Linked DNA regions of Homo sapiens: region 1 is linked to region 2. Evidence: fine-mapped expression QTL. A gene starts in region 2. The other region holds a variant in brackets. All regions are shown on one strand. Distances are between the middles of the regions. Region 1 overlaps SIMC1 (SUMO interacting motifs containing 1). Region 2 holds the start of KIAA1191.

Evidence for each region. PIP is the estimated chance that this variant, and not a neighbour inherited with it, causes the effect.
Region 1: its variant is the best candidate, but not a certain one, in a credible set for the expression of KIAA1191 in whole blood (INTERVAL, PIP 0.55).

What each region holds. Positions count from the first base shown.
Region 1 is chr5:176,329,833-176,345,823 of GRCh38, reverse strand. It overlaps SIMC1 (SUMO interacting motifs containing 1), which reads right to left. Exons shown (of 10, transcript NM_001308195.2): 8 at 8,948-9,104; 9 at 8,678-8,762; 10 at 1-641. The coding sequence ends at 379. Among named protein-coding and RNA genes, the nearest start is that of KIAA1191, 24 kb to the left of the region's middle. The variant G/A (reference allele first, on the strand shown) is at 8,222.
Region 2 is chr5:176,356,679-176,369,968 of GRCh38, reverse strand. It overlaps KIAA1191, which reads left to right and starts at 8,205. Exons shown (of 9, transcript NM_020444.5): 1 at 8,205-8,367; 2 at 10,051-10,158; 3 at 10,402-10,488. The coding sequence starts at 10,461. ARL10 (ARF like GTPase 10) reads right to left here and starts at 4,482. Exons shown (of 4, transcript NM_173664.6): 1 at 4,223-4,482; 2 at 3,388-3,589; 3 at 987-1,162. The coding sequence starts at 4,405. MIR1271 (microRNA 1271) reads right to left here and starts at 2,023; the gene lies at 1,938-2,023. RefSeq lists a silencer at 4,228-4,617 and enhancers at 4,768-5,017, 8,130-8,449.

The sequences.
Region 1 (15,991 bases), 25 kb after region 2:
TCCTGAAACAGGTTGTCGGTACCTTGAATGACATAATATTGGTGTATAGACTAGGTTCAGCAGAGGGATTTTTTCCACATCTTGAATGAAAATGTTAAACATGTGATGCACAGAGTATTAACCTGTTTCAAAAAAGTATAGATAAATAATTTATTAAAAAATATATATACCTTGTATATTTAAGCCATATTTGAGAACAGGCTAGGATAGGATTATTTAAAAAAAGATATTTACTAGAGTTAGAAATTACAACCTACTGATTAAATAATGCAGGTTTGGTCCTGTAAGATTTTAACCACTTTTCATGCTTTTAGAGCTTCTGAGCAGTTGGAGAGAGAGTTCAGGAGGTATTCTTGGCATTCAGTGCTTGGCAGGCCCTCAGGAGCCGCTCCAGCCCTTTTGAAAGGGCTCTGCATCAGGGTTCAAGTCCGCAGCATAGAAGAGCAGGAGCTTCAACAAGTGCACTTTGTCTTGGAGTTGGGGGACAAGAGGCTCCCCCAGCATCTGGATCAGGCGGCTGCGGAAGGCCTCAATCTGCTTCTCTACGTCTACCACTGTGATGTCATCTCCTTGCTGGGGTTTGGGCTTAATCCTTTTGATTATTAAGTCCTTTCGGTCGATCACGGAACTCCTTAAGTGTTCTGCAAGAGGGAAAAAAGTCAGTTGGGTGCTCTGAACTGCTTTTTAATTCTTTTTAAGAAGTCTAATTTTGGTAGGTAGAGTCTTGGCAAAGACTTGCTGACTAGCTACAGGGATACAAGTCGAAGGCTGTGTGAGTGCCTGCAGTAACTCCACTTCCAAAAGGCCCTTTGTTCTCAGTTCTCTCGGGTCCTTAAGAAGTTTTACATTAAAAAAAGTGATATGGTTTGGATCTGTGTCATTTTTTATGATCACATAACATGGTCAAAAAATGAAAATACTGAGGAAACAATTAGACATATTCATCTAGTCCATGTTTTAGCCAATAGTATTTAACATGAGTATGATCATGAATAAACAACTAGACAGTCCCAAATTGTAATCCCTGATGTTGGAGGTGGGGCCTGGTGGGGGTGATTTCTCATGAATGGTTGAGCACCATCCCCTTGGTGCTGTTCTAGTGATGGTGAGTTATCATGAGGTCTGGTGGTTTAAAGTGTTTACGTAGCACCTCCTCACTCTTTATTCTGCTGTGGCCACGTAAAACGTGTCTGCTTCCCCTTGAGCCACGATTGTGTTTCCTGAGGCCTCACTGGAAGCAAAGGCCACTATGCCTCCTGTACAGCCTGTAGAACTGTGAGCCAACTAAACTTTTCTTTATAAATTACCCAGTCTCAGGTGTGTGTGTGTGTGTGTGTGTGTGTGTGTGTGTGTGTATACTCCTGACCTCAAGTGATCCGCAAGCCTCGGCCTCCCAAAGTGCTGGGATTACAGGTGTGAGCCACCGTGCCTGGCCTACTCCATGTTCTTGTCAACAGTATTTAACATGAGTGTGATCACGAGTAAGCAATTAAACATCCCAATCATAGGACATGTACAAAATAACTGGCCTGGACTCTTAAAAAATGTCTATTATGAAAGACAAGTAAAAGCTGGGAACTGTGCTGGACTAAAGGAGACCAAAGAGTATGACTGCCAAGTACAGTGCTTCATATTTGACCGTATCCTGGCTCAATCTAAAATCAACTACCTAAAAAGTATATTACTGGGACACTATTAGATAATATTCTATCAAGAACAAGTTTCATGGCAGGCTGTGGTGGCTCATGCCTGTCATACCAGTGCTTTGGGAGGCGGAGATGGGCAGATCACCTGAGGTCAGGAGTTTGAGACCAGCCTGGCCAACATGGTGAAACCCTGTCTCTACTAAAAATACAAAAAAATTAGCTGGGCATGGTGGTGCATGCCTGTAATCCCAGCTACTCGGAAGCCTGAGGGTGGGAGAATTGCTTGAACCCGGGAGGTGGAGGTTGTAGTGAGCCAAGATCACACCACTGCACTCCAGCCTGGACGACAGAGCTAGACTCCGTCTCAAAAAAAACAAAACAAAACAAAACAAAAAAACAAAAAAAGAAAAGTTTCGTGAGTGTGATAATGCACAGTGGTATGAAGTACAATATCCTTACGCTTAGGAGATACATGCTGAACATGCTGAAGTACTTAAGCAATACAATTATGATGGCGCACTTATCAACTGTTTCAGAAAAAATGGTATATACATGGATCAATAGGTAAACCAAATGTGTCAAAATCTTAGAAGCTAATGAATCAGCGTAAACGGTATATATATGGGCATTCGTTATACTATTCTTTCTACTTTTCCGTAGGTCTAAAAATGAAAATAGGAAAACAAAAAGTTATAAAGGTATCTCATCCCAAATCTACAGGCCAGCCCCAATAGATTCTAGAAGTGTGTGGAATTGAGGCAAATGAGCAGAAGGTCACATTAGGCAAATGTATTGAGAGAGTTCTGGGGACTTGAAGACTTCCAGTTGCACATAAGTACACCATCATTTCTCAGTCTCCTCATTTATCAAACGGGGATGATGGCACTTTCACTAACAGTTATTAAAAGGACTGAGCTACACTGTATCCAGATTTAGGACACAGAACAAATCATTTTAAGTGGTATATCAGGTTACATTTTAAGCGGTTTATCAGGTTACATTTTCAAGTAATACATTCAATATGTTTTTTCTCAACCTTCAGATAAAATGATGGAAAAGCAAAATCTCTCAAAACTAAAGTCTGTAATCTGTGAAGAAGTACAGTAAGTATACAACAGCATGTTCAAAAAGTCTGGAAACACAGGAAACAAAGCTGCCTTGAGATGGAAGTGCAAGGCCCTTTCAACCTTCAAACAGCACACATTTACTGAGCACCTACTGCATATCAGGAACTGGCTAGAGTCTGGGGACACAGTGGAATTTAGAGCCTTGGGCCCAGTCCTTGTGGACTGATATTCTAGTTGCAGGAAGCCTGATGATAAGTTAGTCAACAATATTGATTATAGTTTGTGGCAAATGCAATCAAATAAATAAATCAGATGCTGTGATAAACAGTAACACTGAGGGGAATAAGGGAAGCAGCCCACTCTAGCCACGGAGGGTCTGTGAGCTGAGTATTGACGGATGAGGAGGCAACCATGCAAAGGTCAAAGGGAAAAGCAGTCCATGGAGAACAGCAATAGCAAATGTCCTGAGGAAAAGCATGCTTAGAGAACAAGACAGAAAATCAGGGTAGGAAGCCTTCTGCCGTGGTAAGACGCAGCAAGAAGTCCTTCCCGGGTGCAGCCCCTCGACCTTGGACTTCCCAGCCTCTGGAACTGGGTGGAAGCACTGGGGATGCATATACCACGTTAATGGCATCCATGGAAGGCAATGAAAATTACATTTGATACTTAAAGTGTTTCAGCTAACATAAGGTAATGACTTTATAAATCGAGAAACTTAAAAAAATCAGAGTAATAAAAGGGAGACAAGTACTAGATGAGATTGGAAGGTAGGGTAGGCCACATTATAATGTGGAGTTTGGCCTTTGAGAGCAAACAGGGTATCTATAGACTTAGAGGGTTGTAAATAGGGAAATATGAGCTGTTTTATTTGAGACTAGTTAGGAATTGTCTTAGGAAGAGCCTTTTTGTAGACTTTGATTTTCTTAAGGCATGTGCCACTCTGAAAAATACAAAAATGATTTTGAAAGAAGTGGAAAAAAAGTTGACTGAATAGGGTGGGACAGGGGAAACTTAGAGGGCAAGCAAGAAGAATGTGGAGTTTATTAAATCATGCAGGAAAGTTAAAGAAGCAAATGTTAGCAGTGCCCATCTCAGCACTGTCTATGGGGGAGGAAACCCTGGCCAGTGGACTTCAGCCCTGCTGGTCTAGTCAACAAGGCCTTGGATTTTATGCTTCGGTAGGGATAAGAGTTGTTATGTCAGAGGTTGCTGATTACTGTATGAGGACATTTAGCATTGAAAAGGGTTTGAGCCATAATGCCTGGCTCAAGATATTTCAGCTGATAGTATTGTTAGTAGTTTTGGATCAATACAAGAGTTAATTATTATTTCATCATCATCATCATCATCATCATCATCACTATAGGAATCTCCTACCTAATATGTCAAACCTGAGCTCTTCATCTTCTTTGCAGATCTTTCTCCATATCAGTAATGGCAGAACCCTGGGAGTCACCCTTCAGACTCAGTCACTTAAGAGCCCTGTCAAAGTTATCTTCAAAGTGCTTCTGTCCCATCCACTGCCTTCTCCACTGTCCTTCTGTCCTTGCCACACCCTTGTCACCATTACCCCTCCCCTGGCCCCTCTGGCCCTCTGCCAAATGATTCGCTACACATCAGGTAGAGCAGCCTTTAAATTTGCAGATCTGATCATGACACTCCCTTACTTGGAACCAACCACTTTGATGGCTTCACTCTGTTATTAGAACCAGCTGAATTTCCTTAGCATGGCCAAGATGGCCCTTCACAACCTCCTCCATGGACTATTCTAGTCTCATTTAGTGTTATTCTCCCCTTACTCACTACATCCTTGCCCTGCTAGCTTGTTCTATGTTCCTTGGACTCACTAAGCATCTTTTTGCCTCAAGGCCCTTGGACATTCAGTGCCTTCTTTCTGGAAAACTCTTGTCTCCCCATTTGCCTGGCTAACACCATTACTTCATGTCTTTTATTTATTTCTTTTTGAGATGGAGTCTTGCTCTGCTGCCCAGGCTGGAGTGCAGTGGCACGATCTCAGCTCACTGCAACCTCTGCCTCCCGGGTTCAACCAATTCTCCTGCCTCAGCCTCCCAAGCAGCTGGGATTACAGGCACCCACCACCACGCCTGGCTAATTTTTGTATTTTTAGTAGAGATGGGGATCTGCCATGTTGGCCAGGCTGGTCTTGAACTCCTGACCTCAGGTGATCCATCCACCTCAGCATCCCAAAGTGTTAGGATTACAGGGGTGAGCCCTTGCGCCCCGCCTACTTAATGTCTTAGATGAGGTATCACTTCTTCAGGGAGGCCTTCCTGGATCCCTCCAAAAATAGATTTTGTGCACTTGTACTTCCTTCATAGCATTTACTCTATGTAACTATAGGTTACTTGTATCATTATTCATTTAGGATCAATCTCTCCACTAAACAGTAAGCTCTGTGAGGGCAGATGCCATGCTGGTCTTATTCATTAAGGTTTTCCCAGTGAGCACAGAGGACAGAGAGGACATTCAGTAGATATCTGTTGCCTGGATAAATATATGAATTGAACTGATCCTACCTGCTTCTGCTTTTCCCCGTCCGTGGACAGGGCTCCTTGCAGGGAGACCGTGTGTGTGACTGGCCTCAGAATGACTGTGACTGACTTCTGCAAGCTATGCTGGCCAGATAAGCAGGATTCAGGAAAAGCATGCATTTGTTCATTGAAATATTATATGTTCAAATCCCTAGAATTCATACTCATAAACTCCATGACAGGCAGCACTTTGTAATTTTGCTGAGGCTGAAACTTGAGCCACATGGCTATGCAACTGGGGTGGGGGGGATTGATTCTCTCGGCCAAAGAACAAGAACATGAGCTCAATTGACAGCCCAGAATCCGTGTCTCTGACAGACCTGTTTGAATCCTAGCTCTGCATTTGCTTTTCTCTCAGCCTTTGTTTTCCCATCTATAACAGGGGGTGATACCTTCACAAGGTTTTTGGATTATATAAACCAGTGCAGGTGAATTTACCTAATCTCTTTTCCTTTCTTCCTCCATGCTGAGAGTTCCCCTAAACAAAAGGAAAGCTTGGGCTCTCTAATCCCTTCCCTTCTTCTCCCACTCTTGCAGCTAGACAACTAGTGGAGCTAGACAACTCAGACTGATCTCAAAATGCCCTCAACAACATCCACAGACCACTCGCAGAAGGCAGAGATGAGACGAAGGGCCCTCACAGTAAGATGCTTACTGACTGACAAGGACGCTGACTATTGCTGGGTACCATTCGGCTGTGTTCTTTGCAGGACAATGTTTTCAAACTACTAGTGCTAATTTTCCTCCTTCCTAACTCTTGGACCCCAAAGAAGCTGGAACAAACATTTAAGGATAAAACAGCACTGCAACACACCCCATTTATTCTTGGTCAATATATACTGGTTTGAGGCCTTTCTCTCTCTTATCAAAACATAAAAAATATTCTGTAATAAAAGTAGATTCCGTTTCCACCTTAAGTCATTATTGCCCATGATAGGTGTATTCCCCGGGAATCAAAATAGAAAGGAACAAGAAATGTTAAAGGTGAACTTTAAAACAAGCTGTTAATATTAACCTTTCTGGTAATCTCCAAAACAATTACATAAGCCTCACTGAGGGTAAGAACACATGGAACTTGCCTTCGGGTCTTTGTTTGGAGAAGGACATGCACCTTTCTTTGAGGGTGCTACAAATGCACAAACTGCACAACCACATATCATGCATGGACTGGACAACATACTCTTTTATTTTTTTTGAGACAGAGTCTCACTCTGTCGCCAGGGCTGGAGTGTAGTGGTACGATCTTGGCTCACTGCAACCTCCACCTCCCGGGTTCAAATGATTCTCCTGCCTCAGCCTCCTGAGTAGCTGGGATTACAAGACCCCGCCACTATACCCAGCTAATTTTTTTGTATTTTTAGTAGAGACGGGGTTTCACCATGTTGGTCAGGCTGGCCTCGAACTCCTGACCTTGTGATTCGCCCGCCTCGGCCTCCCAAAGTGCTGGGATTACAGGCGTGAGCCACCATGCCTGGCCGACAATGTACTCTTTTAAGTGTGAGTTACAACAGTCTGAAACACAGAGAAGACCCTTAGCCTACCTCTGCCCAGGGACGCAGGAAGACAGATTCAATGAACATTAAACACATTACTTTTTTCACTCATTAATAATCCTTGCAAGTTACATACTATCATCCCCATTCTATAGAAGGAAGAAACCGAGGCCTAGAGACACAGTTAGCTGCCCAACACTGAGTAAATGGTGAAGTTCGGATTTAAACTCAGACTTTCTGTCTTAAATCCAGTACTTTTTTTTTTTTTTTAAAGTCTCTACAACAGCTTTCTCAATTCCTGGCCTGAGAGGGTCTGAGAGCTATCTTACTTTCCCAAGTGCCATTACTGAGTTAAAATAAACATAAATATGATCATGGGCAGGTGTATTTCACTTGTATACTTTTTTCCCTCACTATTTGGGAATAAGTTGCAGACACTATACCCCTCTACCCCTCAATACTTCAGTATGGATTTCCTAAGGCCAAGGACATTTACTATCATAATCCAGTATGATTATCAAAAATAGGGAATTTAATATGGACACAATAATGTTATCTAATCTACTAAAGTTTTACCAATTGTCCGAACAATGTACTACAGCCTTGCCCTGCTAGTTTGTTCTATGTTCCTTGGACTCACACTAAGCAACTTAGTGTGTCCTAGAGCCTCAAGGCTCTAGGACATGCTGTTCTTTCTTTCTGGAAAACTCTCGTCTCCCCATTTATGACTTCTTTTCTCCTGTTCAGGATCCAGCCTAGGGTCATGCCTTGTATGTAGTATTTATGTGCTTTAGTTTCTTTTAAATGTGGAAGAGTATCTCAGTCTGTCTTTGTTTTTAAAACACTGGCACTTTAAAAAAGTACAGGTCAGTTATTTTATAAAAGGTCACTCAATCTGGTTTTGTCTGAAGTGTCCTGGCCATTGGATCCAGGTCATGAACTTTTGGCAAGAACATTACATACATGATGATGCATCCTTCTCCGTCAATCACATCCAGGAAGAATGCCAGGTTTCTCCCCTAGCAAGTTACTATTTTTCCTCTAGTAATTAATAATTCATCAGTTCTTCAGTTTCCCCACAGGCCTCATTAATCCTTGGCTAATAAAATCATTCTCATTTGAAGCAGCTATTCCATCATTATCCTGGTCAACATTTACCTTCTGAGGGTTACCTGGTCTAACTCTCCTACATCGTCATTGGTCACTGGCTTCACCTGTGACCCAAGCAGCTCTGAAGAGCCACTTTCATAGACTTAGAGTACCTTACATCTTCTGCAAGATGTACATGTTCACCTTGCTCCTGATTTGCTCTGTACTTACATTGTATTGACGGATGTTTACAATGTTTACAATGTCCACAGTCAGTGAGCAAAGATGCTGCAGTGACAGGCCAAGGGAGGATGCCAGGGGTCTTCAGGCATTCCTGAGTCCTTCTCAGGTTCTGATGACTTCTCTTTTTTTCC[G/A]CCCCCCTTGAGACAGGGTCTCACTCTGTTGCCCAGGCTGGAATGCAGTGGCATGATCTTGGCTCACTGCAACCTCTGCCTCCTGGGTTCAAATGATTCTCCTGCTTCAACCTCCTGAGTAGCTGGGAGTACAGGCATACACCACCACGCCTGGCTAATTTTTGTATTTTTAGTAGAGACAGGGTTTCACCATGTTGGCCAGGCTGGAGGTTCTGATGACTTCTGCTTACCTACACAATCTTACAACTATGAGGACCATGTATTGTCGGCCATAACAAGAATATGTGAATTCTTTTCACAGTGGTGACTCCGGCTATGTCATTTCTTATCCCTTATAATAAGTTACATACAACCAAGGAACAATGTCAACAAATCAGAATATCCTGTGTAGTTATGACTAATACAAATGTCCATTGAGACCTTCCACTACTCCACTTGTGAACAAATGCTCCTTACCTCTTAAAACATGTTGATAACTGGACAGCAGAAACTGCAGATGCTCAACCAATTCGTCCCAAGTCTGCCACTGGCTTTTATCTGACTGCAGAGATAGTAAAATGGATTGATAATAAATGCCTTCCCCAGTTAAAATTTTTGTACAGTTTTCAATTCACCTTTACAGAATGCTCAAACAGTTGTGTTTTAAGCTAAAATCCTATGGGAAGGGTTCGGGCCTAGAGCAAAGAGAGGTGCTCTAGGCCTGAAATTGGGCAGGAAAAAATGTACCTGACACTTGAGCAGTGACGTAGAATTATTCAGAAAGTAGAGGGCCTGGGCCAGAGACAGAGGCAGGCGGGTGGGTGTCTCACAGCTGTGGAGGAATATGATTTCTAACACTTTGCAGCGCAGAAGGTGGCTTTCCATGGTAGTAAAGAACATTTCTCTGTGTGGAGAAGAGGAAGAGGGAGTTAATCATCACAACTATGCTTCAAAGAACATGAGCCACAATTCACCCTGAATGTACAACATTTGTCCTAAAAAAGACAGTTAAGAAGGAATACCATGGAAGCCCACAGAATCACAAAACCTGTGGACAGGGTAGAAATGGGTTTGTTGGATTAGCAACTGCTAGAATGAGGAAAAAGTCTTTCACATTTGACAAAGACAAGTTTAGGACACATTAAAAATAATTACTACACATTGTCACTATGAAAATTAATCATGAGAATATTTCTGAATGCCAATGATGTGCCAAATACTATTTGGCACAACAAGGAATATTAAGATAAATAAAAGGAACCACTCTCAAAAAGCTGATAGTTGAACAGGGGCAAGGGGTATGCAAAAGGAACTTTAAAAAGTGCAGGGCAAGTGTACTTGTATGCAAAGTGCTAGTGGTGCTCCAGAGATACACAGAAGAGAGCACATTTGGGGACTGGAAGTGGCCTTCCTATGGAGGCAGAAGCACTGGTGAGAGTGGTCTACGAGGGGCAAAAAAGGCTCAACGCAGGAGGTATTTCTCTCTTTCTTTCTCTTGCTTTCTAATCTCTCTCTCTCTCTCTCTCTCCCCCTCCCTGCCTCCCTCCCTCTCCCTTCATCCCTCACCCCACCCCTGCCTTTCTGACAGGTCTCACTCTGTCATCCAGGCTGGAGTGCAGTGGTGTGATCATCACACACTGCAGCTTCAATCTCTTGGGCTCAAAGTGATCCTCTGACCTCAGCCTCCCAAGTAGCTGGAACTACAGGAGTGTGCCACTGTCCCTGGCTAATTATTATTTTTTTTGTAGAGATGCGGTCTCACTATGTTGTCAGGGCTGGCCTCAAACTCCTGGGCTCAAGCAATCTTCCCACCCTGGCCTCCCAAAGTGTTGGGATTACAGGCGTGAGCCACTGTGTCTGGCCATAGTATTTTTTTATTTGAAACTATTTTCTCTTCTAATTTTTGTGCCAGGGCTTGCTTTATAATCTGCAGATGGTAAACTCAGAGATCTACAAAGGACAAGGACATAATTTCAATATATGGAACACAGTAGGAACTGTACGTAGAATTACCTAGAGCAATTCAAATTAAAAATTTAAAAACAAGGCCGGGCGTGGTGGCTCATGCCTGTAATCCTAGCACTTTGGGAGGCCGAGGCGGGTGGACTGCCTGAGCTCAGGAGTTCGAGACCAGTCTGGGCAAAAACGGTGATACCCTGTCTCTACTAAAACACAAAAAATTAGCCAGGCGTGGTGGTGTGCACCTGTAGTCCCAGCTACTTGGGAGGCTGAGGCAGGAGAATCGCTTGAACCTGGGAGGCCGAGGTTGCAGTGAGCCAAGACTGCACCACTGCAATCCAGCCTGGGCAACACAGCGAGACTCAATCTAAAAAAAAAAAAAAAAAAAAAAGATACAAAGAAAGGCCAACATCTAGATCCAGCCTCAACACAGTAACTGATGTTGGACTTTCCTTTCTGTCATAATCAATGATAAAACCAGAGGAAATATAGAAAACAACCATTTTCAGGCATTAGAGAACTTACTACAAAGGACTGTGATGATTATTATTATTATTTTTTTTTTTTTGAGACAGAGTTTCGCTCTTTTGCCCAGGCTGGAGTGAAGTGGCCTGATCTCAGCTCACTGCAACCTCCACCCCCACCCCCCGGGTTCAAGCAATTCTCCTACCTCAGCCTCCTGAGCCGCTGGGATTATAGGCACCCACCACCATGCCCAGCTAATTTTTGTATTTTTAGTAGAGACATGTTTCACCATGTTGGCCAGGCTGGTCTCGAACTCCTGACCTCAGGTGATCCACCCCAACTGCCTCCCAAAATGCTAGGATTATAGGCATGAGCCACTGTGCCCTGCAGGACTGTGATTCTTGAGAGAAGAGAAACAAAGGTGGTAAACTTCATGTACTCCAGATTTCTTGCTGGGGGCACTTTCTAATGAAGGCAGAGGAAGGTGTGGGTCTAAAATAGAAGAGAGGGGGCTTCTTGGGCAGACAAAACAGAGGCTGGAGTTTAGGACAGCTGAGGTGTCTAGAATTTGTGTCAGAGAATAGGGTGCTCAGGAAATGTGTGTAAGGGAACCTGTTGGCACATGTGTAGGGGAAGCCCCAAAAGCCTGGTGGAGAACAGCTACTGGGGGGTTGCAAGCTGGCTGGGAATTCTGGAGATCTCAGAGTGCTGAAAGATACTGGTGTTTCAAGGAGTCAGTGTGGAGAGATCTCACTGAATATCCTGGACATTCAGTTGAGACCCCAGAAAGATTAAGCCTCAAGAATGTAGCTCCTTAATAAGGGCTGCTGTGGAACCAACCTCACAAATCCTAGAAACAAGCCTCAACAGGAAAAAGCTAATCTGCCAGCAAATTAACTGCCTGCCAGAATAAAAGTCAATACTCTTTAAAGAAAGAGAGCAAAATCCAGACTCTCAACAATGTAGTGCCCACAATGTCCAGAACACAATAAAAATTACCAGACAAGTAAAAAAAGCAGGAAGATGTAATTCATAACCAGGAGCAAATGTCCATAGAAACAGACCAAGAGGTGACATACATGTTGGAATTAGTTGTGAGGGGCTTTTAGACAACTATTATAAATATGTTCAAGATTTTCAAAAGCAAGCAAGTAAATTAAGATGTACATAATGAGTGACTAGATGAAGACTTGCAGCAAAAAGAATAAAAAGGAACCAAATGTTAACTCTAGTTCCAAAAAAAAAAAACCAATAATAGACTTAACAGCAGATTGGGCACTGGGGGAATTAAAAAAATGGATTTTAAAGACTATTGAGAGAGAAAGAGAGAAAACAAAATAAATGAAACTAAACAGCAATAGAAAAAAACAGAGCCTCAGTGATCTGTGGAACAGATCTATATGTACACTTAGATTCCCAGAAGATAAGAGAGGTTGGGGCAAAAAAAAAAATATTAAAAATCTGTATTTAGGCCAGGTACAGTGGCTCACACCTGTAATCCCAGCACTCTGGGAGGCCCAGGTGGGGGAATCAACTGAGGTCAGGAGTTCAAGACCAGCCTGGCCAACACGGTGAAACCCCGTCTCTACTAAAAATACAAAAATTAGCTGGGCGTGGTGGTGCGCACCTGTCATCTCAGCTACTTGGGAGGGTGAGACAGGAGAATCACTTGAGCCTTGGGAGGCAGAGGTTGCGGTGAGCTTAGATTGCACCACTGGACTCCAGTCTGGGCGACAGAGTGAGACCCTATCTCAAACAAAACACAACAAAACACCAAAAAAACCCCACAACCTGGATGAATCACCAGGGAATTATGCTGAGTGAAAAAAAGCCAGTCCCAAAAGGTTATATACCAAATGATTCCATTTATATCATTTTCTTTTTCTTTTTATGTTTGAGATGGACTCTTGCTCTGTCGCCCAGGCTGGAGTGCAGTGGTGCAATCTTGGCTCACTGCAACCTCTGCCTCCTGTGTTCAAGTGATTCTCCTGTCTCACCCTCCCAAGTAGCTGAGATGACAGGTGCGCACCACCACGCCCAGCTAATTTTTGTATTTTTAGTAGAGACGGGGTTTCACCGTGTTGGCCAGGCTGGTCTTGAACTCCTGACATCAAGTGATCTGCCCACCTTGGCCTCCCAAAGTGCTGGGATTATAGGCGTGAGCCATTGTGCCTAGGCCATTTATATCACATTCTTGAAATGACACAAATATAAAAAATGGAAAACAGATTAATGGTTGAAAGGGGTTAAGAAAGGGGTTGGGATGGGAGGGAAGTGGGTGTGGCTATAAAAAGGCAAGAAGAGCAATCCTTGAAGTGATGGAAATGTTCTATATCTTGGCTTATGTCAATCACAATATCCTGGTTGTGATACTGTACTATAGTTTTGTAATATATTACCATTGGGGGAAATTGGAAAAAGATTATCTGGGTTGTCTCTGAACTCTTTAATAATTTTAATATTGAATAAAGTTTATATTTATTTTTATCCAATAATATGTAATATTGAATACAATATTTATCTAATACTATTTAATATTTAACATTCCTTAAAATTGCATGTGAATTTACAATTATGTCAAAATAAGATTTTAATCTAAAAATAAACTAAGGCCAGGCACGGTGGCTCATGTCTGTAATCCCAGCACTGTGGGAGGCTGAGGCGGGTGGATAACCTGAGGTCGGGAGTTCGAGACTAGCCTGACCAACACGGAGAAACCCCGTCTCTACTAAAAATGCAAAGTTAGCCGGGTCTGGTGGCGCATGCCTGTAATCCCAGCTACTTGGGAGGCTGAGGCAGGAGAATCTCTTGAACCCGGGAGGCGGAGGTTGTGGTGAGCTGAGATCGTGCCATTGCACTCCAGTCTAGGCAACAAAAGCAAAACTCTGTCTCAAAAAACAAGCAAACAAACAAAAACAAACAAAAAGATTTTAATTTAAAAAAGAGAACTAAAAGCCAACAGGAGAGATAAAATGGAATAATAGAAAATCTTCAATCAATCCAAAAGCCAGAAGAGGAAGAAAGAACAAACAGGAAACAAATAGTCAGATTACAGGTATAAAACCAATACTTATATTAAAGAGCAGGAATTTTCAGCTGGCTAAAACAACAAATGCCAACTATATACTGTTTACAATAAACATAACCTTTTTTCTTATCTTTTTGTATTGACAATTTCAGACATACTGAATTGCAAGAATAATGCAAAGTTTGTGTTTGTTTGTTTTTTTTTTTAGACAGTCTTGCTCTGTTGCCCAGGCTGGAGTGCAGTGGCACAATCTTGGCTCACTGCAGCCTCGGCCTCCTGGGTTCAAGCGATTCTCCTGCCTCAGCCTCCTGAGTAGCTGAGATTACAGGCGCCCGCCACCACACCTGGCTAATTTTTGTATTTTTAGTAGAGATGGAGTTTCACCATGCTGGCCAAGCTGGTCTTGAACTCCTGACCTCAGCTGATTCGCCCACCTTGGCCTCCCAAAGTGCTAGGATCACAGGCATGAGCCAACTGCATCTGGCCTACCACATCTTCTTTATCCATCTGTCTGTCTGTTTTTCTTTGAATTATCTGAGAGTAAGTTGCAGACATAGGGCTGGGTGCAGTGGCTCATGCCTGCAATCCCAGCACTTTGGGAGGCCAAGGTGGGTGGATCACTTGAGGACAGGAGTTCGAGACCAGCCTGGCCAACATGGTGAAACCCTTTCCCTACTAAAAATATAAAAATTAGCAGGGCATGGTGGGGGCACCTGTAATCCCAGCTACTCAGAAGGCTGAGGCAGGAGAATTGCTTTACATTGCTTTGTCTTTCATGATACTGACTTTTTTTTTTTTTTTTTAGACAGAGTCTCGCTCTGTCGCCCAGGCTGGAGTGCAGTGGCGCGATCGCGGCTCACTGCAAGCTCCGCCTCCTGGGTTCACGCCATTCTCCTGCCTCAGCCTCCCGAGTAGCTGGGACTACAGGGGCCTGCCACCATGCCTGGCTAATTTTCTGTATTTTTAGTAGAGACGGGGTTTCACTGTGTTAGCCAGGATGGTATTGATCTCCTGACCTCGTGATCCACCCGCCTTGGCCTCCCAAAGTGGATACTGACATTTTTGAAAAGCACATGCCAGTTTTTTTCAAGGAACATCTCTCATTTGACATTAGGCTGAACTTTTCCCATGAATGGATGAAGGTTATACATTTTTGGCAGTACTGAAAAAATGGTGTTTTGTTGTTCTCAATGCCTTGTATAAAAAGGCACATGACATCAATTTGTCCCATTGTTGGTGTGAACTTTGATCACTTGACTATGGTAGTGTCTCCATTGTAAAGTTGCTATTTTTCCCTTTGTAATAAATAAGTATCTTGTGGGAACATACTTAGAGACCATGCAAATATCTTGTTACTCCACAATCTTTCACCATGTTAGTATCCATTCACGTCTGAATATTATGATGGTTGCCAAACAGTATTTCTGCCTAATTCATCATTTTTTCTAACATTAGTTGGCTTTTTACTGTAAGAAAGGGGGTCCCGTCTCTTTCTTCCTATCAGCACTGGAATCACAGATTCCTATTTTATTCAACAGATAATATTATTTTACTGTCAATATTCATTTTGGAGCTCAAATTATTCCAGATTTGGTCACTGAAAGCCCCTTTAAGCTGACTCCTGTGTCTTTTGACATGTTCTGAATAGTCTTTGAATATTTCCTTACTTTGTGGCACAAGATGTTCCAGGCTCATCTTGTACTTTACCTAACACAGTTCTGGAGTTAGTCATTCCTTCAAGGAATTCTGGTTCCCTTTTTTTTTTTTTTTTGAGATGGAGACTTGCTCTGTTGCCCAGGCTGGAGTGGAGTGGTGCGATCTCAGCTCACTGCAACCTCCACCTCCTGATTTCAAGCGATTCTCCTGCCTCAGGCTTCCAAGTAGCTGAGATAACAGGCGTATGCTACCATGCCCAGCTAATTTTTTTATTTTTAGTAGAGACAGGGTTTCACCATGTTGGCCAGGCTGGTCTCGAACTCCTGACCTCAAGTGACCTGCCCACCTTGGCCTCCCAAAGTGCTGGGATTACAGGCGTGAGCCACCACACCTGGCCCTGGTTCCCTTTCATGTAAACTGGAATTTAAAAACAAAGATCTGGGTATGAGGTGTGCTCCACTGCTACTAAGATATAATTGCTTCCATGCTCTCTCAGTGGGCAGAGGTAGGAAACATATGTATGAATACACACAGACGTATGTGTATATATAATATATGTAAACAAGCCCTCACACATCTACATCTATTCCTATCTCTATATTTATTAGAAACCACAAGTTCATACTGATACCTCCAATTCCAATCCAGTACCACAGGGTTCATTCTATCCTTTCCCCTTTTCA
Region 2 (13,290 bases):
TTTTTTTTTTGAGATAGGGTCTCGCTGTGTCACCCAGGCTGGAGTGCAGTAGTGTGATCACAGCTCACTGCAGCCTCGACCTCCTGGGTTCAAGTGATCTTTCTGCCTCAGCCTCTAAAGTAGCTGGCACTATAGGCAGGCACCACCACACCCAGTTAATTTTTTGCATTTTTTTTGTAGAGACGGAGTTTCACCATGTTGCCCAGGCTGGTCTCGAACTCCTGGAATCAAATGATCCACCTTCCTTGGCCTCTCAAAGTGTTGGAGGTAGAGGTTTGAGCCACCACGCCTGGACCAATTCTATTACTCTCAAGATGTACAACCTTGGAAAGATTATAAGACTAGCCTGTCCCATCTATAAAATGGGAATAGCATCCCATACTTTATAGGGTCAACAGAAGCATAAGAAGAAATGTTATTCAAAACCACACCTGGGGGCCAGACACAGTGACTCATGCCTATAATTCCAGCACTTTGGGAAGCTGAGGCGGGCGGATCACTTGAGGTCAGGAGTTCAAGACCAGCCTGGCCAACATGGCAAAACTCCACCTCTACTAAAAATACAAAAATTGGCTGGGTGTGGTGGCACATACCTGTAATCCCAGCTACTCGGAAGGCTGAGGCACAAGAATTGCTTGAACCCGGGAGGTGGAGGTTGCAGTGAGCCGAGATCACACCACTGCATTCCAGCCTGGGCGACAGAACAAGACTCTGTCTCAAAAAAAAAACAAAAACAAAACACCATGCCTGGCATATAGGAGGCACTTAATAATTATTTTTCTCATCTCTCCAGAGTACGAGATGATAGGGAGGCAAAGAGGAAGGAAGACAGAGGCAGGGATCAGGACAGGGCATAGGTAGAAGAGGTGGGGGCAGCATCTCAGCCACCCTCTCCAGGCCATGGGCCCAGGCAGCGCTCCTTGCCCCTGCCCAAGCATCTCTGAGTGGATGTCACCTGGACCGAGCTGCCCTCTCACAGCCCTCACCTGCTTGTTGGCCACCACGACGACAGGCAGGTCAGGGTCCTTGTCCAGCAGCTTGTGCAGCTCCTGTCGGGCCCAGGGCAGCCGCAGTCGGTCAGCCGAGTCCACCACAAACACCAGCACATCCACCTCGCTCACAAACTCCTTCCAGTAGAAGCGCAGGTTCTGGCTGCCCCCAACTGAGGAGAGGCCAGGGGCCAGCTCAGAGCCTCCCGGGCCCCCGCTCACTGCCCACAGCCCCCACCCCACCCCGGGCCCCCGCTCACTGCCCACAGCCCCCACCCCACCCCGGGCCCCCGCTCACTGCCCACAGCCCCCACCCCACCCTGCTTCTAGCTTAGTGAGCTTCCACCAGCCGGGGGCAAGGAAAAGACCGCAGTTTCCGCAGCTACTCAGACTGGATTTAGCTCTAGCTCTGATAGGCGGGTCTCTTGGGGCAAGTCCCTAGCTTTAAGCACCAGTCTCCTCACTGAACTTTCCTAACGGGTTGTTGCAGTAAAACCCACAGGTACCACGTGCGATGTACCTTTCACGGGACTGACACACAGGTGCTCAGTAAATGGAAGTCTTCAGTTCTCTCCCCTGGGTTGTCTGGCTTTGCCTCTTGCTAATTCCTAGCTTTCTCCTACAGGTTCAAAACTGTCAGTGATGGCTGTGACAGGAGCCAGGAGTCCTATTGTCTAGAAAACTCAGGACCCCCTGCCCTGCCTATACACAGCCATTCTCCATTCAGTTTCCCCCATCCCCTTCTTTTCCCTTGGAAATGTCATATTTCATCCTATGAACACATGGTTGCCAACACAGTCCCCCAGCCTGGATCACCTTTCTTTTCCTCTCTGCTCCTCTGCACAGTCCCATTGGTCACCCCGCACCCTAGTGTTTCTGGCTATGTTTCTGACACTTGAGGATTCTAAGCTGTGAGAGTCAGAGGCACTTACCTCTGAATCCCCACAAAGCCCTCAGCACAATGCCTGGCACATAGCAGGCACTCAACAAATATTTACTGAGTGCTTGCTAGGTGCCAAGCACTGATCTGGGTGCTGCAGATACAGAGGTGAGCAAGGCAAGCAGGGGCCCTGCACCAAGGAGCTCCCTCCCTAACTGGGAAGGACATGGCAATGACATCAACACATTTCAAAAAGGAAAGAAATAAAACAGAAAAAAGGGAAAGTGGCTGAGGTGGAACAGGGGTTGGCCCTGGATTGGGTGGTCTGGGTAGGTCTCATCAAGGAAGTGGCATGTGAGCTGAGTGGGATGATGAGAAGGAGCCAGCCATGGGAAGAGGCAGAGGAAAGCATTCCAGACAGAGGGGAGAGCATGCTGGAAGTGTCTGGGAAACAGAAAGAAGGCTGGGGTGCTGAGGCACTGCAAGAAGGAGAAAGAGATGGCTGTGAGGCTGGCTGGGGCGGGCCACATGGGGCCAAAGACCACAGTGAGGGGGTGGGGAGCCCCCCAAGGGCTTTAAGCAAGAGTGACATTACCTGACATGGGTTTTCTCTAGCTGACACTAGGGACAGAAGGGGAAGCAGGAAGACCAAAGAGGAGGCTGTGGTGCTGAGAGGAAAGATGACACTAGTTTGGGCCAGACAGGCAATAGTGGAGGAGGGTGTGCCACTGCCCACTGCCATTCCAGCCTGGGCGACAGAGACCCTGTCTCCAAAAAAAAAAAACTAGAATGGTGGGGTGCGATGGCTTACGCCTGTAATCCCAGCACTTTGGGAGGTCGAAGCGGGCAGATCACTTGAGGTCAGGAGTTCAAGACTAGCCTGACCAATGTGGTGAAACCCCCGTCTCTACTAAAAATACAAAAATTAGCCGGGCGTGGTGGCGGGCGCCTGTAATCCCAGCTGCTCAGGAGGCTGAAGCTGGAGAATCGCTTGAACCCGGGAGGAGGAGGTTGCAGTGAGCCGAGACAGCGCCATTGCACTCCAGCCTGGGTGTCACAGTGAGACTCCATCTCAAAAAAAAAAAAAAAAAAAAAAAGACTAGAAAGGTGGGTGACCTTGGATTCATGATACTACTGCTGGAACTCATTTTCCTCTGGAGATAACGAGGGTAGTGACCGATTCTAGTTTTATGTAATTGTTTAGGGGAGTTTTCTTAAGCAATGCCCGTCAAGTGCTTGGCATATGAACCCTTAGCTGTTAGTATCTCTGTGTTAGGCCTATCGACTTTGGTAGGGGTGATGGGGCAGGCGGTGCAGCTGGAGAGGCCCGATCACGAAGGGCCCTAAATGTCAGAGCACAGAGCGTGGGCTGAATCCTGTGCCCCGGAGAGCGGTGGGAAGGATTCGTAGAGGGGAATGTGCTGCTTAGACATGCATTTTGGAAGCCCCCTTCCCTGCAGAGAATCCAGGACTGGTCCAGTAGAGGAGACGGGGAGATGGGGTAGGGTGTCCGCTCACTTTCTAGCAGGTCCACCTCAAAGTCCTTGGTGGGCAGACGCACGGAGTTGAAGCCCCAGGTGGGGATGTGGCCTTCCAGCGGTGGCTTCCCCGACAACACGCGCAGGAACGTGCTCTTGCCTGCGCCATCCAGCCCCAGCACCAGCACCTCGCGCTGTTCCAGCTCCTCCAGCGCCGGCTCCTCGTCCTCCTCGTCCTCGGGCTGCGGGGAAGCGGAGGTAAGGTTGCGGCTGGCGGCCTCCCGAAGGACCTTTCCCGAGGGAAGACCGAAGGCACCAGAGGGCCCAGGCCCGCCTTCCACCCGTCCTGGGACAGGCAGGCATGGTCTGGATGAGTGGGACGAACGCCGCCTTTGCAGTCCTGAATTCCAAACCCTTGGCGAATTCCTTAAACGCTCGCGCGCCCCGCTTCCTCCACCGGTCTCGGAGTCCCGACCGCAGGCGGGAGGGGATGGGGTTTCTCCCGACATCCCCACCCCCGGGCGGGGTGCACTGCGCAGGCGCCGGAGGGGCGCGAGCCGACCCGGCTGGGCCCCGGGATGCTCCCGAGCCGCGCCCTCCAAACTCCGGCCCCCGCTGGAACACCCGAGCCTCATGGCGTGGAGCGACGGCGTGGCGCCAAGGCGCCGCACGCACCCAAGCACACCCACCCGTTCCTCGGTTCCCGGGCTCTGACCGCCCACCCGCGCGGGGCCTGTGCGCTGCGGCTGCCAAGCCCTCGACCCCCCAAGCTCCCGGCACCAGCAGGGCCGTTCCGTGGTCACACCCCTTGGCCACATGCGCGGAGTCGCAGCCCAGCCTGCCCGCCCTTCCGCAGGCCTCGGCCCGGCACTCACGTCCCACTCGTCCCACTCGGGGAGGCGGGCAGCCTCCGCGCCCCACCAGGCCTCTCCCCGGTCCCAGCGCCGCTCTCGGCCGCGGCCGAAGTAGGTCTTCCAGAGGATGAAGAGCACCGAGCCCAGCACCGCCGCGGCGCCGCCCAGCGCCAGCACCAAGGGGCCCAGCGGCCGCGGCGCCATCGGGCCGGGCGAGGGACGCAGGTGCGGGTTGCACAGGCCGAGCCCACTCGCCCGCCGAAGATGGCCCCGCTGCGACTGCTGCGGCCGCGCCCACCCACCCAGACCCAGTCCCGCACTACAAGCCCCACAATGCACTGCCGCTGTCACGGCAGGCCGCCCGGGACCCGGCGGCGTGGGTGGTGGGGCGCTGGCCGGCGCGCGGGGACCTCCGGTCCCCCTGCCAGGTGCAGGGTGGAGGAAGGAGAGGCTGTGCCTGGGGAGGACGGGAGACGGCGGTGCTTGCTAGCATCCACCAGGGGTTAGCTCACGGCTTTTCTCCGTTACCCCTTACAATGATACCACGCAGAAGGGAAAACCGAGGCCCAGGAGTTAAGTAACCCGCCCAACGCCGCATCGTAGTGCTTTGGTGTAGCCTGCGTTCAAACCCAAGCGATCTGTCTCCCGGTCATCCCTCAAGACCTCGGGAGGAAATTGAAGCAAGACGCCCGATATCACACGGCAGTGGGGTGGCAGAGGCAGGAATAGAACCCAGGTCCGTGGCTCCCCGCCACCTCTAGCCTTCTTTCGCTGCCTCCCGGACCACAGGGGTTTTGCTGGGGTCCTGGTCAGGCTGAATTAAGCAGTGTCAGGACTTCAGAATGTTTAGGGCTGACTGCCTTGTCCTAGGTACCCCCAGTGACTGCCAAGGCTTCCACGTGTGTAGCACGAGGAGGAAGAACAGGAGAAACGACCTGAGTACAGCAGTCGGGTTCTTTTGGCTCTCCAGAGGGGTGACGCCATGTACGGCTGGCTGTAGGGTACATGGGTCGAGAGACCGCCTGTGGCTCTCAGGGCCCAGCAGGGCTACCTCTTCCCCTTTATATTGTCTCAACTCTTCACCTCCTTTTAGTTTGCGATTCCTCTGTACCCCTGGCTCTGGGTCCCAGCCCCTATTCCTTCTGATTTGTCCCCCTTTCCCTTTGACTACATATATATGCTCCTCTCCTCCCAGATAGTGATGTTTTAGCTACATCTTATTTCTTCCGGCATTGATTCTTTTGAAAAATTTATTTCTGGCCGGGTGTGGTGGCTCATGCCTGTAATCCCAGCACTTTGGGAGGCCGAGGCAGGCGGATCACCTGAGGTCAGGAGTTCGAGAATAGCCTGCCTAACATGGTGAAACCCCATCTCTACAAAAATTAGCCGGGCGTGGTGGCACGTGCCTGTAATCCCACCTACTCAGGAGGCTAAGGCAGGAGAATCGCTTGAACCCAGGAGGAGGAGGTTGCAGTGTGCTGAGATTGCGCCACTGCCCTCCAGCCTGGGTGACAGAGCAAGAATCCGTCTCAAAAAAAAAAAAAAAGAAAAAAAAATTAGCTCCTCCTCAAAAATACACCCACTTAGAGGGGAAAACCCACAAAATTGCTAAGATTAAAAGTTTGGCTGGTGCGGTGGCTCACGCCTGTGATCCCAGCACTTTGGGAGGCCGAGGCAGCCGGCCGGATCACGAGGTCAGGAGATCGAGACCATCCTGGCTAACACGGTGAAACCCCATCTCTACTGAAAATCCAAAAAATTAGCCGGGCGTGGAGCCGGGCGTGGTGGCAGGCGCCTGTAGTCCCAGCTACTTGGTAGACTGAGGCAGGAGAATCGCTTGAAACTGGGAGGCAGAGGTTACTGTGAGCCGAGATTGCGCCACTGCATTCCAGCCTGGGCAACAGAGCGAGACCTTGTCTCAAAAAAAAAAAAAAAAAAAATGTTTACAGTCTATTATTTGTGGAAAAGAAATAGGTGCTCTCACATAGGTGCTATGCACCAAGACCATGACAGCTTCAGACATTGGTACCACAAATATCAGGGATAAAGTTTTTTTTTTTTTTGAGATGGAGTCTCACTCTGTAGCCCAGGCTGGAGTGCAGTAGTGTGATCTCAGGCCTCCCAAAGTGCTGGGATTACAGGCATGAGCCACCACACCCAGCCAGAAATAAATTTTTCAAAAGAATCAATGCCGGAAGAAATAAGATGTAGCTAAAACATCACTATCTGGGAGGAGAGGAGCATATATATGTAGTCAAAGGGAAAGGGGGACAAATCAGAAGGAATAGGGGCTGGGACCCAGAGCCAGGGGTACAGAGGAATCGCGAACTAAAAGGAGGTGAAGAGTTGAGACAATATAAAGGGAAAGAGGTAGCCCTGCTGGGCCCTGAGAGCCACAGGCGGTCTCTCAACCCATGTACCCTACAGCCAGCCGTACATGGCGTCACCCCTCTGGAGAGCCAAAAGAACCCGACTGCTGTACTCAGGTCGTTTCTCCTGTTCTTCCTCCTCGTGCTACACACGTGGAAGCCTTGGCAGTCACTGGGGGTACCTAGGACAAGGCAGACTGCAGCCTCCGTCTCCCAGGTTCAAGAGATTCTCCTGCCTCAGTCTCCAGAATAGCTGGGATTACAGGCACCTGTCACTACGCCTGGCTGATTTTTGTATTTTAGTAGAGACGGGGTTTCGCCGTGTTGGCCAGGATGGTCTCGAACGCCTCAGCCTCTGAAAGTGTTGGGATTACAGGCCTGAACCACCGTGCCCAGCCAGAAAAAGTTGTTTTAATCAAATAGTAACTTCCAGGAAAGTCTTAAGTTTTCATGTATTTGTGGCTAAGAAATAAATGAGATGATCCCACCTTATGATCTACATAAGGGTGCAAAGTGCTATTTCTTCCTTTTCTGACTGAGAGGTGATATACATCCCTTCCTGTGGTGGATAAAGAGCAAGGTGCCAGCTTTGCTTCCACAGAGGTTAAAAAATATGGCATATTTTAAAAGCTCCAAATTAACAAAGGAACACCTTTAACACACACACGCACGCACACATATACACACAATTATACTGCAATGTAATTGTGCTGTTGATAAGCTAATTATAGAATTCATCAAAGACTTTAATTCTTAGTGCACTCAAGCACCCTGGTCTGGAAACAGCGCTTAAGTTTCAAGTCGCATGAGCAAGGCCTCTCAGTTCTGCCAGTACGGCTGGAAGCCTCAAATGCTGAAATCTAAATGTGACATTCACCCTGCACCACCAATCATAGCTCTCCTGAGATGAGTTTTGATGGCGAGCTTTGGACTGGGGTAGAAACGTGGATAGATTTTTGCAAATTCTGCTGTAACTTCGTTGCTTCGCCTTCTTTGTGAACCCTTCAGGGATAAGAGAAGTCTTCCTTCAGGATGTGACTGACACCTCAGCTGGCGCCTCTAAGCCTCACTCTCCTTTATGTAAAAGAGAAATGATATTAGGATCGCCTTCCCTAGGGGAGGCAGGTGAGGTCGGTTCCCTTTTTTGGTTCAGCTACTAGTACGAACCCTGCCTAACCCCGCTGTTTTGGGAGACAGTCCGTGCTCACTGCACCGCTTGCTAATCGAAGTGACTTCTCATCTCTCCCAGTCTCAGCTTCACCTCCGTGAAGTGGGAAAAACAGGATGACAAGTGCTCGCACTTGGCAGCCCTTTTTGAGCCTTGAGGGCTTGGGTTTGTGGGTGTCATTTTACTATGCTACCTCCGTCTTCCCTTAGCTTGTCACGGACCCAGGCACAGCACACGCGCTGAGGAAGTGGTGGTGAAGTGTGGCGTTTCCTCTCGGGGCTGGCGGATTCCACACTCGGAGCTGCGGCTCCACAACTCGCTGGGCGGCGAAGGGCATGGGGAGGGGGCGGGTCTCGCGATCGTGGACAACAACTCCCAGCATGCCCTGTGCTCCGCTGGGCCAAGTCTCGCGCGAGATCCCGCGGTCTCCGGAGGCTTTATCTGCAGTGCTGCCTGCCCGCTGGGTGGTACTGCTACCTAGTGGGTCTTGGGGACCTTCGAAATCGCCGCCGCTCTCACAATGGCTTGGGTCCAGACTGCGCCACAGCCTCTCGGGAGACGTGGGCCCTCGGAACCTTTTTAGTGCCGGACTCCGGGCCGCAGGCAGTCCCGCGGCAGCAGGATCACAGGTGAACAGATGGCGGGCCTGGGCCCTCCCTTGGGGCTGCGTTCTCTGGCGATCAGGAGGGGCGCTTCCGGCGAGGCCCGATCTCGGGGCCCCTCCAAGCCACTCCCCTCTCCCCGCACCTCTTAACCCTTCATCCCGGCTTCGAGCTCGGCTGGGTCGCCTCTTGCCTCCCTGGCTCCGCTCTCTGGGGTCTCCGTAATGGGGCTTCTCTCCGGGAATGCCCTGCAGCTCCCGTACGGGCTTCCCCTCCGCTTCGTGGGACCAGCCCAGCCCGAGCCCCCGCGGCTTGTCCTCAACCTCATCTCCCCACACCCCGCCTTCGGCTAGGGTCCTGGCCCTAATCTTAGCCTGGAGGGGTGGGTGAAGCAGCCGGCCTTTCGTATCCTGGCGGCACCGTCTTGTATATTGTGAAGGAGAGGCAGAGGGACGGTGAGCTGGGGGGTGGGGGCACAGGGAAAGGGAAAGGGGAAGGGGACGTGTCTGGGGCGGGAATGCTCCCTGGACTGGGAGGATGGCTGAATTCGGCCTTTGCGATGCTCGTTAGTGAAGAACTATCAATAACTTGTTTGCTCTGTCTGAGTCCTATCGGGATAGAGGGACGGTGTAGCAAGCTGAAAAACAAGAGTAACTTTCTCAGGCCCTCGTTTTAACTCCCCTGTAAACTGGGCATGAAACTACCTACCTTGCGCACGGACCACTTATCTGTGACCGTGGACAAATTTACTTAACTCCTCTGATTTTTAGTTTCCTTCTCTTTATTATTATTTTTAACATTTTTTTAATTTTTTTAATTTTTATTTTTGAGACCGAGTCTCACTCCGTCGCCCAGGCTGGAGTACAGTGGCTCGATCTCGGCTCACTGCAACCTCCGCCTCCCGGGTTCAAGCTATTCTCCTGCCTCAGCCTCCCGAGTAGCTGGGATTACAGGCGCCCGCCACCATGCCCGGCTAATTTTTGTATTTTTAGTAGAGATGGGGTTTCACCATGTTGGCCAGGCTAGTCTCGAACTCCTGACCTCAAGTGATCTGCCCGCCTGGGTCTCGCAAAATGCTGGGATTACAGGCGTGAGCCACCGCACCCGGCCAGTTTCCTTCTCTTTAAATTTGGGATAGCCTTTCTGTAAGAGATAGCTTAAAAAAAAAACTGGGGTCGGGCGCGGTGGCTCACGCTTGTAATCCTAGCACTTTGGGAGGCCGAGGTGGGCGGATCGCAAGGTCAGGAGATCAAGACCATCCTGGCTAGTGCGGTGAAACCCCATCTCTACTAAAAATACAAAAAATTAGCCAGGCGTGGTGGCAGACGCCTGTAGTCCCAGCTACTTGGGAGGCTAAGGCAGGAGAATGGCGTGAACCCGGGAGGTGGAGCTTGCAGTGAGCCAAGATCGCGCCACTGCACTCCAGCCTGGGCGACAGAGTGAGACTCCGTCTCAAAAAAAAAAAAAAAAAAAAATTGGGATTGGGATAAATAATATCTGCTTTGCCATCTTGCTGCAAGGATTAAAAGACAAGATAAACGCTGTAAATAGTTTATAGTGTTAGCTATAAAGAACAAATTTCCCTACTGTAGTATCTAGCCGCTTGCTGTGAGTTAAGAAAATGAAATGAGCAAGGTTGTTGTGGGGAATAAACAAGTGTTTGGCAGACTCTGACGGGCTGTTCCAATGCTGGCTGTTTGTTGTTATTAGAACCTCTGGATGGACTCTTCCTGGGAAGCTTTGCTACTTTGCAGCAGCTGGACCATGTTCCTCATTAACATCTGTCTGTCCGCTTAGTCATCACATCATTTCACTGTGGTAAGGTGACTTTTTCACCATGTATGGCATCTTAGCTCTGTCATCTCACAGGTGTTAAGATCAGCCACAGGTGTGGTGAGACGTTTGACTTTATCCTTCTTTTTTCATTGGCATGTTTGTCACCCACTGGCTCTTGCATGTGTGTTTCAACCTTGTAAACAAGCCGTTCAATTCTGTGTGCCTGCCAGAAGAACAGCATTGGTGCTGCTCACCATAAGAAAATGCCCTTTGTTATTTTATTAGGTGGCAGGGACTCAGCTCGGAATTCTGTATAGAAAAAGCACCTGGATCCCAGTCTTTCAATGGCTTCAAGACAACCAGAAGTGCCTGGTAAACTTAATTCTTTTTGGTAAAATCATGTTTTGCCCTTATTAATGTTTTAAGCTAGACAGAAACCATTTTATCGGAACTATATATTAATGGTTAATCTCTGCTACCAAGCGAGTATTTAGATTTACTAGATTGGCTTATTTTATTTTATTTTATTTTTTTGAGATGGAGTCTTGCTCTGTTGCCCAGGCTGGAGTGCAGCGGCACAATCTCGGCTCACTGCTACCTCCGCTTCCTGGGTTCAAGCCATTCTCCTGCCTCAGCCTCCCCAGTAGCTGGGATTACAGGTGCCCGCCACCACACCCAGCTAATTTTTGTATTTTTTGTAGAGACGGGGTTTCACCATATTGGCCAGGCTGGTCTGGAACTCCTGACCTTTTTTTTTTTTTTTTTTTTTGAGACAGAGTCTTGCTCTGTCGCCCAGGCTGGAGTGCAGTGGCGCGATCTCAGCTCACTGCAAGCTCCGCCTCCCGGGTTCACACCATTCTCCTGCCTCAGCCTCCCGAGTAGCTGGGACTACAGGCGCCCACCACCATGCCCAGCTAATTTTTTGTATTTTTAGTAGAGACGAGGTTTCACCGTGTTAGCCAGGATGGTCTCGATTTCTTGACCTTGTGATCCGCCCGCCTCGGCCTCCCAAGGTAATGGGATTACAGGCGTGAGCCACCGTGCCCGGCGGAACTCCTGACCTTGTGATCTGCCTGCCTCGGCCTCCCAAAGTGTTGGGATTACAGGTGTGAGCCACCACGCCCAGCCAGTTTTATTTTATTTTTGAGTCTCACTCTGCTGCCCAGGCTAGAATACAGTGGTGTGATCTCAGCTCACTGCAACCTCCGCCTCCTGGGCTCAAGTGATTCTCCTGCCTCAGCCTCGAGTAGCTGGGATTACAGCTGCCTGCCACCACGCCCGGCTAATTTTTGTATTTTTAATAGAGACAGGGTTTCTCCATGTTGGCCAGGCTGGTCTCAAACTCCTGACCTCAGGTGATCCTTCCACCTTGGCCTCCCAAAGTGCTGGGATTACAGGTGTGAGCCACCACGCCTAGCCTTAGATTGGCATCATTTAAATATTTTATTAGCCGCTCAGCCATAGTATGAAACTTTAACTTAAAGAGAATAGTCACTTCATTTAAGGGTATTATGACAAGTTTGTTACTTTCCTAGTTATCAAATAATAATTCAGAATAAGTTGTGCAGTTCTTGTAGTATGTACCAAAGTGATTAAACTCACCTTTTTGGGGGTGATGGGGAGGTGGGATGGAAGTCTTGGTAAAAAGGCACCAGCCTGCTTAAATGGCAGATTGAACTTAATCATGAAAATGCTCACAGCAACCCTTAATGAGTCAAGTTCTGGGTTATTGACACCATTGATGACTACTTGAATTGTTTTATGAGAAAGGAAAGTGATTTTTAATTACATCTGAATCGCTTAATTTCTGATTCTCGGTAAAGTATGATGATGAAGAAAGATGATGGTTCCTATCTCTCGGGGTTGTGAAGATTAAACAAAATATGTAAAAACAGGAGTTAAAAATCAGTGATAAATATGTATTTACTGCCCAGAATGCATTTGGTCTGTCTTTATATGAACATATTTTCCAGTAAATACTAGCTGACTTTATTTGTTTTAGGATGGCTGTTCAGTGGGAGTCTTTAAGATGTTTTTGAAATTGCTCCCCAAGTCTCCCGTATTCCCCAATATAGATCCATCTCTAGTCTTAACATCATCAGCTCCGTTTTAGTTTGTCTTTCATTGTTGCTGTGATTACCACAAACTCCGTGTAGCCGTCGCGAGCCATAGGATTGTGCCCATTCAGTGAATGCTTTGTAGTGTGTTGCATGCAGAGTGTGTGCACCGGCTCAGGTCTGTGTTCCAGTTCCCAGCACACTCTTTCAAGCTAGGTGATATTGGGCAAGTTGATTGTGAAAATGGAAAATTTGAAAATGGGAAGAATATCTGCTTCATGAGGATTAGATAAGATGAGGGATGTAATTGTCTAGCAAGGAGGAAGACTTAGTAATTATTATTTGCTTGTGTGTGTGTTTGAGATGTAATGCACATATCATAAAATTCACCCACTGAAAGTGAACAATGTCGTGATTTTTAGTATATTCACAGGGTTGTGCAAACAACACTACGATCAATTGCAGCACATTTTCTTTTCTTTTCTTTTTTTTTTTGAGATGGAATCTCGCTCTGTTGCCTAGGTTGGAATGCAGTGGCACGATCTTGGCTCTCTGCAACCTCCGCCTCCTGGGTTCAAGCAATTCTCCTGCCTCAGTCTCCCAAGTAGCTGGGACTACAGGCACGTACCACCACGCCTGGCTAATTTTTGTATTTTGAGTAGAGATGGGATTTCACCATGTTGGCTAGGCCGGAACGCCTGACCTCAGGTGATCCACCCACATCAGCCTCCCAAAGTGCTGGGATTACAGGTGTGAGCCACCACACCCATCCAAACTGCAGTACGTTTTCATAACCTCCAAAGGAAAACCTCGTACCATTAGCAGTCGTATCCTCACTCCCCCCACCCACTCCCTGGCAACCTCTAATCCTCTTTTTATTTCTATGGTTTTGTTAATTATTACTAATAGCAATAGTAATAATAATGATAGCTGCTTGGTCCCCTTGCCGTTTAAATGAAACCTTTTGTGGTTTTGGACTTATTGCCAGGCAGGTTGATGTCTTAGAGAGTGTTATTATATGATTTTAGCCACAGGAAAATGTTACCTTTCAGGTAGGTTCTGGACATTAGTTCTGATATGCAAGGATTAGCAAACGAAACACAATGAACTTGGCTCC